2 separate regions of the Homo sapiens genome follow, and region 1 is linked to region 2. A link means that fine-mapping ties the variant in region 2 to the expression of a gene that starts in the linked region. Tissue or cell type: whole blood. Region 2 holds a variant in brackets; the other region holds the start of a gene. All regions are shown on one strand. Distances are between the middles of the regions.

The links. PIP is the estimated chance that this variant, and not a neighbour inherited with it, causes the effect.
Region 1: PLXDC1 starts here. The variant in region 2 is fine-mapped to the expression of PLXDC1 in whole blood (TOPMed, PIP above 0.99).

Annotation. Positions count from the first base shown.
Region 1 is chr17:39,147,921-39,155,583 of GRCh38, forward strand. It overlaps PLXDC1 (plexin domain containing 1), which reads right to left and starts at 3,717. Exons shown (of 14, transcript NM_020405.5): 1 at 3,442-3,717. The coding sequence starts at 3,517. TRC-GCA2-3 (tRNA-Cys (anticodon GCA) 2-3) reads right to left here and starts at 5,885; the gene lies at 5,814-5,885. It overlaps TRC-GCA2-4 (tRNA-Cys (anticodon GCA) 2-4), which reads right to left and starts at 6,642; the gene lies at 6,571-6,642. RefSeq lists enhancers at 5,221-5,370, 5,743-6,249, 6,250-6,754 and a silencer at 6,631-6,700.
Region 2 is chr17:39,098,028-39,106,361 of GRCh38, forward strand. PLXDC1 (plexin domain containing 1) reads right to left here. Exons shown (of 14, transcript NM_020405.5): 7 at 7,827-7,926. Among named protein-coding and RNA genes, the nearest start is that of PLXDC1, 49 kb to the right of the region's middle. RefSeq lists an enhancer at 920-1,521. The variant T/C (reference allele first, on the strand shown) is at 4,384.

The DNA of each region.
Region 1 (7,663 bases), 50 kb after region 2:
ATGAAGAAAATCAGACAGAGGAAAGGGTTGGGGTTGTTGCTACTCTACACAGAGCCATGAGGTGGGGCTCTCTGAGGAGGGTCCCCTTGAGCTGATTAAGACCTGAATGAGAAGAAGCCAGTTAGTTATCTGTCGATCGGAGGGGACGGCAGCTGGAGTGGGTTAAGGGGTGAATCTGGGGAGAGCTAGAGAAGATGGTGGGATGAGGGAGGGGCTGCCTGACCTCCATAAGTTCGCATTTTAGTCTCAGGTTGTTGGAGCCCTAGAGACAATCTGGTCCAACCTCCTTCCCTCCTTTTTTTAAAAAAAGATGGGACCTCGTTATGCTGCCCTCACTATGTGGCATGATCATAGCTCACTGCAGCCTCCAGTTCCTGGGCTCAAACGATCCTCCTGCCTCAGCCTTCCGAGTACCTGGGACTACAGGCGCACACCGCCATGCCCAGCTAATTTTTTATTTTAATTTTAATTTTTTTTTTTGACAGAGTCTTACTCTGTTGCCCAGGCTGGAGTGCAGTGGTGCGATCTCAGCTCACTATAACCTCTGCCTCTCGGGTTCAAGCTATTCTCCTGCCTCAGCTTCCTGAGTAACTGAGATTACAGGCATGCACCACCACGCCTGGCTAATTTTTACTAATATACTAATATTAATAATATTAATAACAATACTAAATATACTAATTTTTGTATATTTAGTAGAGACGGGGTTTCACCATGTTAGCCAGGCTGGTCTCAAACTCCTGACCTCAGGTGATCCGCCGGCCTCGGCCTCCCAGAGTGCTGGGATTACAGGCATGAGCCACCCTGCCTGGCCTAAATCATTTATAGACATGGGGTCTCACTATTTTGCCCAGGCTGGTCTCAAACTCCTGGTCTAAAGCTATCCTCCCACCTCAGCCTCCCAAAGTGTTAGGATCACAAGCATGAGCCACCGTGACTGGTGCAAGCCCCCATTTTATAGACGGGGAAACCTTCCTCAGAGAAAGGAGGAAGCTGTCAGGGTCACCAGTAGTTGGTATTGAGCCTGGCCTCCTGCAGGACTCCCAGGCCAGGATGCCAACTCTCGCTGCCTCTTCTTTATCTGTCATATGCACCTCTGGTTCCATCTGACCAGACTGTCAGTTCCCTGGGCCCCTGCTCTGCACCCCAAGGCCATTTTCCTGTCTGTCATCCTGGTCTCCCCTGCTGTCTGACTCTGTCTTTGGGCCACTCATCTCTCTGCTGCTGCTGTTCTAATGATAGATGAGGTTTCAAGGCTCTACCAAACAAGCCTGTCCATCAGGAGCGAGGGGAGATCTCAGCTACTTCCCAAGGCCCCCCACCAGCCCCACAAACCCAGAGCCTTGGGGAAGGATGCTAGCATCTCTTCAGGTCCTGCTCCCAGCTGCCCTTCCACTGGTCACAACAACTCCGCCATCAATCAGGTCAGGCTGCCCCTCCTTAGCAACTCTCCCCCAGAACGTCCTTCTCCTACATCTGGCCTCCCCAGACACCCGCTTCCTCCTCATAGGTCCTCCTGCCTGTGAAATCCCACCTGGCCTGTGAAAAGGGCACCGGACTGGGAGTCAACAGCTGCCGCCTCTGGCTTCTTACAGATTCCTTAAGTCTAACCTCTATCCCTCCTGCTGCAGAAAAAGTGCATTTCTCCTGGCTCAATCTCTGTCAAAGCCAAGAAGACAGGATAGCCTCTACTTAGAGAAGTGATTCAAGTCTCTGCCTGCCCCACTCTTCCTGGTCTCCTCAACCGTCTACTACCCCAACCCTACTCTGAAGGGGCCGCCCTCAGCCAGGCCCGGGTCTGGCCACTATCTCCCAGCCCATCCTTGTTACCTCCCAATTCCCCCTTCCCCAGCCCTCTCCGTGGTTCACACAATCCAGCCAAAGGTTCAGATCCTCCCCTCATAAACTCTGTTACACCCAGAGTTCAGAAGATCACACCAGGTTGAGGATTCAAAGGAGCCCAGAAATTATTCATAACATATCCAACTCTCTCCTGTTTACCTTGATTTTTTTAAAGTATCAGTTACCCATAAAGACCCTAACAAATATGAAAAGGAAAGGCAATTATAAAAGATCCTTCATTATTCCACGCACAAGAGTCAAAGATTTTGCCAACAGCCTCACTTTATAAATGCAAAAATAGGTCCAGAGAGAGAAAGTAACTTGTCTAAAGTCACACAGCAAGTGAGATGGCGGGACTAGAAGCCACGTCTCTGGCCACCCTCTGTGTGGTCTCCCTGAAAATTGGTGGTTCTCACCAGCAGCTTCTCGGTTCGTCAGCTCCACTGCCCTCTGCCCATACTTCCCACTGTCAGCCTCCTTCCCCTCCCACCCCCAACATACTCTTCTTCTCAATAGGGACCCAGGTCTGTCTCAGCTACATGCTGGGACCATTAAAGTCAAGAACATTGCCACTGACACTGTGCCTGGTGCCAGCACACTCCTGAGACACAGCAGGTCAACCACAGCACTCACCTCAACAGCGCCTCCCTCACCCCACCTGAGGGGCACCCATGCCAATGATGCACAGGTATCTATCTTCTTAATCATCTCTGCTGAGGGGCCAGGCTGCAAATTACCCATCTCCCCAACCCCAGAGAAAGTCTAGGTGCTTAGGGGAGAACAGAGACTATGAAAATTATACCATGAGGGATTCCAGGTAGATCTCAGAAAGGACTTCCAGGTGGGAGAGATGAGTTTGGAGAACTGGTAGGGGGGAAGAGGAGTGTGCAGAATGGGACGCCTCCCTCCACCCCCTACCCCAGTGCCCCATCTAGAGCCAGAGTAGCTGAAAGCCAAAGGCTGCCAGGGCAAATGGGAGCAGGTGTGAGGAGGGGGACTCTTGAGGCTGGGGGTGCAGAAGCAGCAAGTTGCTTCTTCCTGGGCCCACTGCCTCTCTACTGACACCAAATAGGCAAGGGAAGGTGACCGAATGGCTGCTGCCTTCCCAGGCAGAGACGCTGTGTCCCCACCATCCCCCTGGCTGCTCCCACCTATCCCTAGCCTGGATCAGCTTTGGGGTCGGGGGTGTGGCAGAGAAGAGGAAAAGAAGGCATGGCTGGGGCAGGGGCCTCCCCAGGCTCCCATCTCATCAGAATTCAGCCTTGCCTGGGGTGATCAGGGGTCCTGATGACTCTCCCGCTGTCCCCTTTCAGAGCCCATGGCCACATAGAGCCCCCTCTCCTAAGGTCCCTCCAGTATCCTTCCAGGAGAGAAGGAGAGGTCCGGGCATCGGTGTCTCCACCGTCACTCACACACCCTATGTGTTTGGGAAAGTGGGGTCCCTATCCACCTGCCCACAGCCCACAGCTCTCCTGGCCTCCTGCGGACAATGCCCCCCTCGCGGACATCGCCAGGCCGTCCACACCTGCCCATGCCCACACCTGACTGCCCGTCCCTCCCCGCCCCCGGCCCACCCGGGCCGGCTCCCGCCAGTCCTACCTGCTCCGGGCTGGGGGCTCAGCGCCCGGGCAGCCTCCCTGAGCACCAGCACCAGGAGCCAGAGCTCGCCTCGCATGGTGGGTGCCCGGACCTGCCCCCGGCCTGCTTGCTGCCCCGGTCCTGACGAGGGAGGGGGCCCTGGCTCAGGCTGCGGCCGCGCGGTCCCCGGGGCTGGCGGAGGGGCGGGCGGCGAGGAGACGGCGGAGCGCGGGGCCGGGCGAGCCGGCAGGAGCGGCGAGAGCGCGAGCGGAGCTGGAGGCTGCGGCCTCCGGGAGCAGGCGGGGAGCTGGGGGGGCCGCTGGGTCGGTGGGGGTGGGGGGGAGCTGGGGCAGGGGGCGGGGCGGGGGGCGCGGCGTCGTTGGGGGCTCTCCCGGCGCCTGCCCTCAGCCCTAACGGAGCGCTCCCCTAGAGCTCTGCAGCCGCTCCCAAGGCAAGGGGTGCAGAGTAGGGGACAGGGCGGGAGCCCCTCGGGCTGAGAGAACCCCTAGAAGCATCAGCCGCCCCGCGCTCCTCACTGAGCTCCTGGCTCCCTTTCCCTCCTCCGTTCCGCCGGGAAAGCTGCAGAGAGAAGGCCCGAGGACTGGACCCCTGGAAGGGACAGGCGCCCCATCCCTGGGTCACGGGCCCCTGACTGTTCCCCGCCCCCAGCTCCTCCAAGCTCTGCGACTTCCTGAGCTGTTCTTCGGAATTCTGTGCGTCTCTGATGCTTTGTCCTCCAGCCCCCACCCCCAGAAATCTCCCCCTGCAGCAAAGACCCCCAGCTTTTCTCCCCAAGAGGGGCCTGAATCCCACCCCCCTTCCATGACTCCACCTTATCCCTCCACCCCCCATTTCCAGCACCGATTTGCCCCCCAAGCCTAGCAGACGTGAGGGTGGAGGGGGCCTGGCTACCCCTTACTCTGCAACAGTCTGGACCCCTCCCCACGAGTAGGTAACCCAGGCCTCCTGCCTCTCTGGGGCCTCCAGGCCTACTCAGGGCCAGACCCAATCAATCTTCAGAGCCAGCCCCAGACGAGGAAATGGCTCACCCCACCTGTCACCACCTTCTGACAGGCTCTGGGGATAGATAATCTTTTTATTTTTTCTTCCAGGACAGAATAAAAATACCCGCAATGTAGGATATTTAATAGACGGCAAGGAATCAGGTCAGGACACGAAGATGCCTCTTCCCTCCCCTGACCTACTTCGTTCTTGTGACGGCAAGGAGCTGGGGCGCTGGAGAGTGGGAGACGGGGTGAGGGGGCATCCTGGCTTCTAGTGGGCTGGGGCCTAGGGACTAGAAAACCGCGGAGAGGAAGGGTGCGAACGCTGAGCGCCATTGGAGAAATTTTCCAGGAGGAGGGATATGGGCGGGGACAGGAGAAGGTACACTGTGGGCTGGAAGAGACGGATTCCGTGGCACTGAGGTTAAAAAAAAAAAAAAGAAAAGAAAAGAAAAAAAAACACCTAAGAAAGGAAACAACTAAAGGCTCTCTAATCTCTTAGAACGCCGGTTCCTCCTTCCGCCGGGCCCAGAGTCCCAGAGACTACCTCCTCCAGCCCTAAACCCAATGTCCCCTTACCGTGGAACAAGGCAAGGCCGGTCTGTAAATTCTTCTTGATGTCTAATTTAAATCCCAACTTGGCGGACTCTCAAACAGAATCAGATAGGCAGCTACCTCCAGCTGCAGCTACTTGCTGCCCTCAAGTGGCCACGTGACGAGCCACAACCCTCTTGTCCTGCGGGTTTCCTCTTTCCCCAGCCTGCCCACCCCCTGTCTCCGACCTCCTGCCTTCCTCGAGGTCAAGGTGAGAAGTCTCGGGACGGATTCCAGCTCCAGCCCCGGCGTCTTTGCACATTCCTCCATCTGGGGTACCTCGTGGTCTGTCTTACAAGAAGAGCTCAGGCTGAAACATAAACTTGTAAATAGTAGAAGCAAATGTGTAAATTTTAACGTAAGCCTCTAGAACTTGAGATCGTAATCACCTGCAGGGTGTGTGTGTGTGTGTGTGTGTGTGTGTGTGTGTGTGTGTGTGTGTATTTTGTTTGTTTTTTGAGACAGGTTCTCGCACGTTGCCTAGGCTGGAGTGCAGTGCTGCGATCATAGCTCACTGCAGCTTCCAACTCCTGGACTCAAGCGATGGGGAGCGTATATGAAAACACAGATTTCTGGACTCCACCCTCAAGTTTCTAATTCATTAGGTCTGGGATGAGGCCCGAGCGTACCCAGGTAATGCTGCTGGTCCCAGGACCACATTTTGAGAGCCACTGCTGTTGAATCCCCAGTTCCTTTCAGTCCCTCACTGCTCCTCGTCTGCCAGTAGGAGTAAAAGCAAACAGCTTAGGAAAAATCGACACCCAGGACAAAAACAGTATCTCGAAAAGGCCAAAGAGGGGGCACCCGGATTTGAACCGGGGACCTCTTGATCTGCAGTCAAATGCTCTACCACTGAGCTATACCCCCTCTGCCGGCAAACCGACCGCACGTAGTCGTTTAGTGGTATTGCTGCGCAGGCGCTGTGTGGCGTTCCCGAAGGGAAGTGGAAGTGGGGTAAGACGTTTACAAGAGATGGAAAAAATACAACTCCCAGAAGAATTACTCACTTGGAAGCAGGGGTTGTTCCCTGAAGCTCTGAGCTGAAGATCCCCACTGGCAGTATAAGAAAATATATTCCTGGGGTGTGGAAGGAGAAGTCTCTCGAAATATTTCACTTCGGGGGCGTCCCACTCTCCTGCCCTGCAGAAGACCCCTTGCCACGTCTCGGAGCTTCTTTCTCCCTCCCACATGCTCACGCGGCTTCTCCCGACCTGTCTTCCCCAGCCCAGCCCTTAGAAACTCAGCCTCCTTCCCGCCAAGAAAGAGCCAGGCTGACCTGGGGGTGCGCTCGCCTCCGCCCTGCCATTGCGAGGTTGAGCCACCCGTACCGTGTTCCAAGGGTCAGCCCGGAGCTCCTCGCCCTCACTCGCATTGCATTCTACCCTGGGTACACACACAGGCTGAGCCACTGGCAGGGGCCAGGACTCCATCCTCACTCGCCTGCGAAAGCAAAAAGGGTGGCAGGGCTCGAGACTCCCTCCCATTCCATCTGTGCGGGAACTCTTTAGAGGACCTCCGGAGACCAACAAAACGAGGTAACTCCGGAGCACAGAGGGGGCACCCGGATTTGAACCGGGGACCTCTTGATCTGCAGTCAAATGCTCTACCACTGAGCTATACCCCCGCCACGCCACTACGTTGTCATTAGAGTTAATTTCTATGGAATAGGGGTGTGGTCTTCATTTTCCCTTAAAGTTTTAATCTGAGGGTTGCGTCGGGATACCTACTGAAAAAAACACAAAATACAATGGGAATGGCTAGAACTCCTGAGTTCTTCCTTCATAGCCACGCTTTCGGAAAACCAACTAGATTAAGGAATCTTGGGCCGAGAGCGGTGGCTCACGCCTGTAATCCCAGCACTTTGGGAGGCCGAGGCGGGTGGATCACAAGGTCAGGACATCGAGACCTCCTGGCTAACACAGTGAAACCCCGTCTCTACTAAAAATACAAAAATTAGCCGGGTGTGGTGGCGGGCGCCTGTAGTCCCAGCTACTCGGGAGGCTGAGGCAGGAGAATGGCGTGAACCCTGGAGGCGGAGCTTGCAGTGAGCCGAGATCGCGCCACTGCACTCCAGCCTGGGCAACAGAGCGAGACTCTGTCTCAAAAAAAAAGGAATATTGGGTCCTCTATATCCGTGCCTAGACTCTCCCCCAAATGTCCACTGACTGGCTTGAGAAAAGGACTGTCCCCAGGACCGCCCCAGGTCCAGGGATGTACAGATGAACAGACTGGATCTCCATCTTGTCTCCTGGGCTTTTCCAACCCCAGGGTCGCTCCTCCCCTTCTCTCAAACCAAAAGCCAGTTTGAGGAACAGACAGAGGAGAAGGCTGAAATAAGAGGTAAGCATTTTTCAATAGCATTTACTACAGCCTTATAAAAATCCTAATACAGTATTTTTTTTAAAATCCTGGCCGGGCGCGGTGGCTCGCGCCTGTAATCCCAGCACTTTGGGAGGCCGAGGCGGGCGGATCACGAGGTCAGGAGATCGAGACCATCCTGGCCAACATGGTGAAACCCCATCTCTACTAAAAATACAAAAAAATTAGCAGGGCGTGGTGGTGCGCGCTTATAGTCCCAGCTACTCGAGAGGCTGGGGCAGGACAATCGCTTGAACCCGGGAAGCGGAGGTTGCAGTGAGCCGAGA
Region 2 (8,334 bases):
ACCCCGTCTCTGCTAAAAAATACAAAAATTAGTCAGGCGTGGTGGCGGGCACCTATAATCACAGCTACTCCGGAGGCTGAGGCAGGAGAATTGCTTGAACCCAGGAGGTGGAGGTTGCAGTGAGCCGAGATTGCGCCATTGCACTCCAGCCTGGGCAACAAGAGTGAAACTCCATCTCAAAAAAAAAAAAAAAAAAAAAAAAAATCCGTATACAATTTTAAGATTCCCAGACTTCCTGAATTTTATGCTTGTTCCCGTAAGCTAAAAACCTCTGACAAAAAGGGATGCAATTTCCAAAACACTCAACTCCCAAACTCAAGTGGTGTCAGACCCCTGTTCTCACCTAGAGTCACAATAGAGCAGAGGACAAGGTCTATGCTATGTCCATTCCCTTCAGCGGTGCCCTAACCCCAGCAACTAGGTCCACTTTCTTGTAGTTACTCATTTTCTAAAAATGTTAGTGCCTGCCCACTGGGCTCACTGCTGGGGGCCATAGAGAGCCCCCAAGGAATTCACACCTAGCTGGGGAGGACAATAAGTTCTATGTTAAGAGTATCAGCATTTGTTCTCGCCACCACTAGAAAGAAAAGAAGAAGAAGAAAAAAGTATCAGCGAAGTGCCGGGGGGAAGAAGAGGAAGCCGTGAATTCCACTGCATGGCGGAGTGGTTACTTGCACAGCATCTGACCTGGGCCGCTGGAGAGGGAGAATGGTGCCAAGCAGTAAAAAAGATTGGAGTAAGAGGCGTTTTATACAAGGGGACTGTGTCATACCGATGTGGACAGCCCTTAGCATGTTCAGGGAACCCAGGGGACACAGACCAGAGCTCCCCAGGCAGAGGGCGGTGAGCGGAGGGAGGGTTTGGAAATGCGCCTGCGTGGTTGACTGCACCCAGCTGTGCCCGGCCTTGAATGCCACACTGAGGATTTTGACCTGACCTGTGGGCAGCAAGGAGTCAGAGAGTGATGTGATCGGATCTGATGGTGACAAGGAGGAACAGGAGACAGAGGGAAGGAGGACGAGGCTGGGAGCTGCTGGCAGTGTCTGGGGGTCAGGTGCTGGCTTTCACCTGGCAGGTAGACCCAACACCTCAGCACACAGCACCTGGAGTCAGACTCCAACCGCTCCCACCACCGAGATTTCCTCCTGATCCTGCAGAGCAGACATAGCCTCCCTGCTCTTTCAGGTGGGTTGTGCTTCCCCGCCCCCTTCACCCCTCATCTCTCTGGTTTGCTCTAAAGGGGCTTCTCATTCCAGAATCACAGAGGAGCCTCAGAGGCAGATGCTACCGGGGATCTGACCCCCTCTAATTCACCCTCATTCCACAGCTTGATCAGGCACACGTTTCCTGAGACTCTGCCTGGAAGAAGCCCTTGAGGGAGGTGCAGATGAAACAGACACATCCCTGCCCCGACAGTGGGCTCAGTAATGTACATGGGATGCAGGATAGGGAAGGAAATAAGGCACAGACACCAAGAACAGTCCCAAGAAGCAGCCTGGGGAGTTTGCACACCCCACTCTGTGGGTGTTTGGGGGAGCTGAGGAGGAAAAGATTCCCCTGGGTGGAATGGGAGTGGGTCAGTCTAAGAAAGGCTCAGTGGTGGACTCCAGGATTTAAATGGAGAAGATCTGGACTTGAATTCTTCCTTTCATAGCTGTGTGACCAAGGATAAGTCACTCTACCTCTCTGAACATTTGTGTCCTCATTTAGAAAGGGACAAATGTACAAACTCACAATGTTTGGGGAAGATCCAAGACACTGTCCAGCTTAGTGCATGGGAAAGAGGATTATAATCAGTGTGGTAGGCAGACGCTAGCATGGCCCCCAGAGAGCCTCTACGGTGGCTGCCTGGTATCCACACCCAGGTGCAATCCAGTCCCTGAGCGTAGACTGGATCTGTGACTTGGTTCTAGCCAGCGGAATGTGGCAAAAAAGATAGGATGTTACATCTAAAATTAAGCTATAAAAAGACCCTGGTTTGCGTCTTCCTCGCCCTCTGCTTTTGTCTCGCTTGCCTGCTCTGATGGAAGCCAGCTGCCATATCATGGGGAAGTTTACCAGGCAAGGAGCCAAAGAAGGCCTCCTTGGGGAACTGAATCCTGAATTCTGAATCCTGAATCCTGCCAAACCACATGAAAGCTCTGAAGCCGGTCCCAACCCTCCCCACCTGCCACCCCATCACGGGGGTAACTGTGACCCTGGCTAACACTTTTTTTCTTTTTTTTGAGACAGAGTTTCACTCTTTCACCCAGTGAAATCGTGAGTGAGTGGTGTGAGGAGTGAGGTGGTGCGATCTCAGCTCACTGCAAGCTCCGCCCCTCGGGTTCAAGCGATTCTCCTGCCTCAGCCTCCCAAGTAGCTGGGATTATAGGTACCCATCACCACACCCAGCTAACTTTTGTATTTTTAGTAAGGATGGGGTTTCGACATATTGGCCAGGCTGGTCTCAAACTCCTGACCTCAGGAGATCCCCTGCCTTGGCCTCCCAAAGAACTGAGATTATGGGCGTGAGCCACCGTGCCTGGCCGCTGGCTAACACTTCAGTCGCAGCCTGTGAAAGACCTTGAATGAGAGGTCCTGGCTGAATTGTGCTTTGCTTCCTGATCCATAAAAACTCTGAGATAATATGTTGCAGTTTTAAGCCACTAAATTCTGGAGCAATTTGTTATACAGCTGTAGCTAACTAATGCAACCAGGTGATACGGAGATGATTTAACAACTGGCTCAACACAGGCGTTTACCAACCAGTCAGAGCAGATGCTGCCTGCAGCCATGGAGCCAGGTCCTGGAGCCCAGGCTGTAATACTTGATAGAGGACTGGGAGCGCAGGGGGCTAAGGGGAGGGCAGGAGGGGTCGTGGGAGGTACGAGGGGGCTCAAATCAGCAGCAATTTGCCAACAAGAATGCAAGTATTTCAATATTTTGACAACTGATACAACTGTAGTGGGGTGCACTGACTCTCAGCCCAGGATCTAATATCTAGGGTTGGAAATGGGCCTTAAAGGATAAGGTGATATCCACAGGGCCCCATGGCATGGAGCAAGGGAAGCCACACATTGGAGCTGAAGGAAGAGTTTTCTGCTGTCGCCGCTTGTGTGCAGTTTCAAAGACTGCTCCATACACATATGGCAAAGACAGGAAAACAGCTCTACTAGCTTAAAAACAGTTCCTCGTGTAGCAGCAACATAACAGAGGCACTGAAATATCAGAAACGCGCAGAAGAGTTCAAGGCCGTGTTTGAGAAAGGGAAGGAGGGAGGGACATTCACACGTATCACGTATCGAGTAGGTGCCTGCTGTCTGACAGACACCCTGCCCGGCTTTATATCCAAGTCTAGGCCACTGGGGCACAAAGGCCTCATGAGGAGCCATGTGGTATGGGTGGCAATGAGCCACAGCATCCAGGACAGTTTTGTGGAAGAAAGGAGACAGAGGGCACGGGGCCCTAAAAAGGGAGACGGAGAAGAAGGGAAGGGAGGGTGAGGTGCGAGCCCCACACTTCTGTGGCAGGCTAGGCCTGGGGTACAGCCACCAGCCAACGGGCCCATGGATCAAGACTATAACCCACCCAAATGCTGACCAGGGAGGAGGGATTCCTTATTTGCCGCTTAGCAGTGGGCGCTTTGCCCTCAAGCCACCAGAGCCATTTGCTCCCAGAACCATAAGCCGGGACCACCCTAGTTATGCTGAGAGCTGAATTAGTCCCAAGTAGAAGCAGCAAAAACTTGACCACAAAACTCCTTTCTAGTAGCATATGCAAATCAGATGCCCCTCCACTCCGATGCCCTGCCCTCTGCCATCTCCCTCGATATCATGCAGTGTTGCGTGGGAAGGGTGTCTAGCGGCTGGCCCTACCGAGAGGTGGTATGCTTCGGGGAGCAAGTCTATGCCTGCTTACCAGCTGGGAATGCTGCAGGCAGGCAGATATTGGGAAGAAAGAATAGAAAGGGAGGTTGTAGGAAGGTGGAGGAAGAAGAAGCTGGTGAATTTCTGAAGAGGGGAAAGAACTCCTGGCCTGTTGGGAATTAACCAGGCCCCATTCACCAGCCCCTTGACCCTTGAGTGCCACCCACCCCACCCACAGATCTGCCCAGATGAAGGTGTGGACTGGGGCGAGATGCTTGGTGGGTGCTAACCAGCCTTTACTGGGCACCCCGCCCAAGCCAGGCACAGTGCCTGGTGCTCTGTGCATGGATATCTCAGCTAATCCTCACCACAGCCCTTGAGGTAGCTCGAGGCAACTCATTAGATGGTGACAGCTACAGCCCAGACCTTGCCTTGGGACACACGGCAAGCGAAAGAGTAGGTGACAGGCATGCCCACCTATGAGGAGGGTAAAGTGCCAGAGTCTCCGTGGAACCCACTTTGGCCACAGCTATCAAAA[T/C]TGTAAATGCCCCTGCCCTTTGACCCAATGATTGGACCACTGAGAATATAGCGTACGGAAATACTCACACGGGGGCATGAAAGTACCTACTGTATTATTTGTTATAGCCCAAGATTTAAAACAACTGAAAAGTCTACCCCCAGGGGACAGGTTAAATTAAGGTCCATCCATGGAATGGACTATCAGGCAGCCATTAAAGAGAAGAATGAGGCAGCTCACTGTGTGCTGAGACAGAACAGTGGGCAGGATGTACTCTGTTCAAGTGCAGAAACACTGACATCGTATGCTATCAAATACACACACACACACACACACACACACACACACACACTCACTCACCTGAAGGCTTGCAGCTCTGGAGATAACCCAGAACACTGGTTTCCCCTCCCTTTGCCTCCAGGGAGGAGAGCTGAGAGATGGCGAACTGAGAGACAGGGTTCAGGGGCAGGTGAAAAACCTAATCTCTGTACATCCTTTTATATCTTTTGCATTTTAGACCAGATACACTTATTCATGAAAAAATATAACTTTATAAATGAAGATAAAGAAATGCATTAGTACTTTGGGAGGCCAAGGAGGGTGGATCACAAGGTCAGGAGATTGAGACCATCCTGGCTAACATGGTGAAACCCCATCTCTACTAAAAATACAAAAATTAGCCAGGCGTGGTGGCAGGTGCCTCTAGTCCCAGCTACTCAGGAGGCTGAGGCAGGAGAATGGCGTGAACCCGGGAGGTGGAGCTTGCAGTGAGCTGAGATCTCATCACTGCACTCCAGCCTGGGCGACACAGCGAGACTCCGTCTCAAAAAAAAAAAAAAGACATGCATTACTAAATAAGCTGGGCTCAGTGACCCAGGCCAGTAATCCCAGCACATTGGGCACTGGGAGGCTTGCAGGGGAGGTTAAGTTGAGCCCAGGAGTTTGAGACCACCCCAGGCAACATGGGAAAACCCTGTCCATCTCTCCAAAAAAAAATTTAAAAATTAGTTGGGCATGGTGGCATGTGCCTGTGGCCCCAGCTTCTTGGGAGGCTGAGGTGGGAGGATGGCTTGAGCCCAAGTGTTTGAGGCCGCAATGAACTATGATGGGGACACTGCGCTCCAGCCTGAGACCCTGTCTCTAATAATAATAATAATAATGAATAGTAATTCATGGCTGGGCGCGGTGGCTGACTCCTGTAATCCCAGCACTTTGGGAGACCGAGGCAGGCAGATCACCTGAGGTCAGGAGTTTGAGACCAGCCTGGACAACATGGTGAAACCCTGTCTTTACTAAAAATACAAAAATCAGCCAGGCGTGGTGGCCGGCGCCTGTAATCCCAGCTACTCAGGAGGCTGAGGCAGGAGAATCACTCGAACCCGGGAGGCAAAGGTTGCAGTGAGCCAAGATCGTGCCACTGCACTCCAGCCTGGGCAACAGAGCGAGACTCTGTCTCAAAAAAAAAAAAAAAAAGAATAGTAATTCATGGAAATGGCAAAAATCTCAAAGAGGGATGTGCAAACAAGTAAAGGTAGGGAAACTCTGCGCCACTATAGCATGTGACTTTTTGTCCCTAGTCACAAAAGCTGCATGAAAGTGTGAAAGTGCTGTGGCGGCATCTGACCTGCGACACCAGCATGAGGACACTGCTTGTTCCTAGTCCTGCACTGTTCGCTACAGAACAAGGTGTCCTGCTGGATTATAAAATGCTGAGTTTTAAAGTCTACTGTAGTGAGATATTCTTATACCGGACTCACAGACCTGATGTGCCAGACATTAGGCCCAACACTTTACATACACTATCGCCTGCGTGTTTGCAGCAGCTGTAGGGGCAAAGTATCACTCTTATCCCTATTTTACAGATAAAGAAATAAACGCAGAGAGGTTGAGTGACTCACCAGAGGTCAGATGCTTGTGGAAAGTGTGGACTCCAGCTCAGGCTTCCAGTTCCAGAGCTGAGCCCCTAACACTCCACTGAACTTTGCATATAGAAGGTACTGGGTAAGGCCTTTTAACTAAGCCCTGGTCCTTTCCTTCAGATTAAAAAAAAAATAGATTAAAGGCCCCATTGTTCCCCAACCCTTAACATTTCTGTTAAAGACAGAGGTTTGGGGTGGGGCATGGGGGCTGACGTCTGTAATCCCAGCACTTTGGGATGCCAAGATGGGAGGATCGTGTGAGTTCAGGAGTTTGAGACAAGCCTGGGAAACATAGCAAGGCCCTGTCTCTACAAAAAATAACAAAATTAGCCAGGCATGGTGGCATGTGCCTGTGGTCCCAGCTACTCGGGAGGCTGAGGTGGGAGGATCACTTGAACCTGGGAGGTGGAGGCTGCAGTGGGTAGAAATTGCACTACTGCATTCATCCTGAATGACAGAGCAAGACTTTGTTTAAAAAAAAAAAGGCTGTGCTCAGATACTGAATGCCTCAAGGGCAGATGCCCTTCCTCTTCACTGTATCTCAACAGTGCCTGGAACATAGTGGCCCAGTGTGTAAGCAGGAACTCAGAACACGTGTACTGATGGAACCGAACAGAAATAGGCAATGATGCCTCCCCCGGGAAGCCCTGATTTCACAGAACGGCGGTACCTTGCCCTTCTACAGGAAGGTGACTTGGGGGCTCCCAAGCGTGTCCTTCCGTCCAGCCTGGCATGGCAAGAGTGGAGTTGAGAATGCCCCCAGGCCCCATCAAAGCCCAGGTGGGGTGGGAAGGGCAGACAAAGGCTCCTCCCCAGACCTCCCGGGGTCCTACATGGCAGAACTTGTGCATACGGCTCAGCAGAAGAGGTCAGGTTAAAAAGTCTCTGAGACAAGGGTCTAGAAGGAGCGGCAGTGCATGGGATGCCTGCCGCGCTCCCCAGGAGTACAAATCCAAGACCCTCGTGAGCACGCAATGGGGGTCGGGAGCAGGGGAGAAAGAGCTATGACCTCCTAAAATGTCAGCACTGGAGGAGGGCCTGGGAGGGAGAAGCACTCCTTCAGCTACTATCCCATTTTGTAGATGAGGCAACTGAGGCTAGAGAGATGATGTGGTTTGCTGAAGGACAGGGAGGTAACAGCATGGCCGAGGCTGGATTCCTGTCTCCTGGCATCCTATGATGCTCCCTTTATCACCTGGAGTGGGAAGGCCACAATGGTTGTATTCTGGGAGGACTCAAACCCCTTACTAGGGCATCTTTGGAGGTTTTCTACATAGAACAGGGGCTGAGTGGAAGGGCTGTGGCTCCCTTTCACCTTAACAACCAGAGCAGTGCCTCCCATTGGAGATTTTGCTGGAGAAAATGGTCCCTCTGCTATAACAAAGAAAAGCTGGAAGTCACTGGGCATCCTTTCCTGCCTGGTTTCCCTCTCAACTCTCTGCCCCTTGTCTACTCCCTGCCACTGCCATCCCCCCAGCAGCTCAGGTTCAGTCTGAGCGGAGTCCTACCCCCATCAAGGCCTCTGCGGGGTCCCTGAAGACTCACCTGGCACATCCGGGGATGGATTGAGAATCATGAAGGCATCCGATAGGCCGGTTTTGACAGGATGCTGGGAGGAGCTGATTTCCGGGACAGACATAGGGATCTGCGGCAGGGAGAAGAGACTCCGTCCACCTCCCAAACGCTCTGGGGCCCACCCAGCCCTCCCCTGTGAGCTCCAGACCCATCTTTCTGGATGGCACCACCTCCTGGAGGACTCCAAGACATTGGAAGCCCAGTGGGACCCCACCCAAATTCCAAGTCCTCTCCACACCACCTCCAAGCACATTTTCTTCTTTCCTCTGTCTCGGTGAATGGCACTCCATGCAGGCCGGAAACCCGGGACATACCCTTTTCCCTTCCCTTTCTTTCATTTCTTCCCTTCCCCATCTAATGCATCTCCGAATTCTGTTGCTTAACCTGCTAAGTGGCTCTCAAATCTGTCTGTTTTCCATTTCCCCTCATCCTACTCTAAGCTGCTGTCACCCTTCTCCTAAATTACTTCCCAGTATTC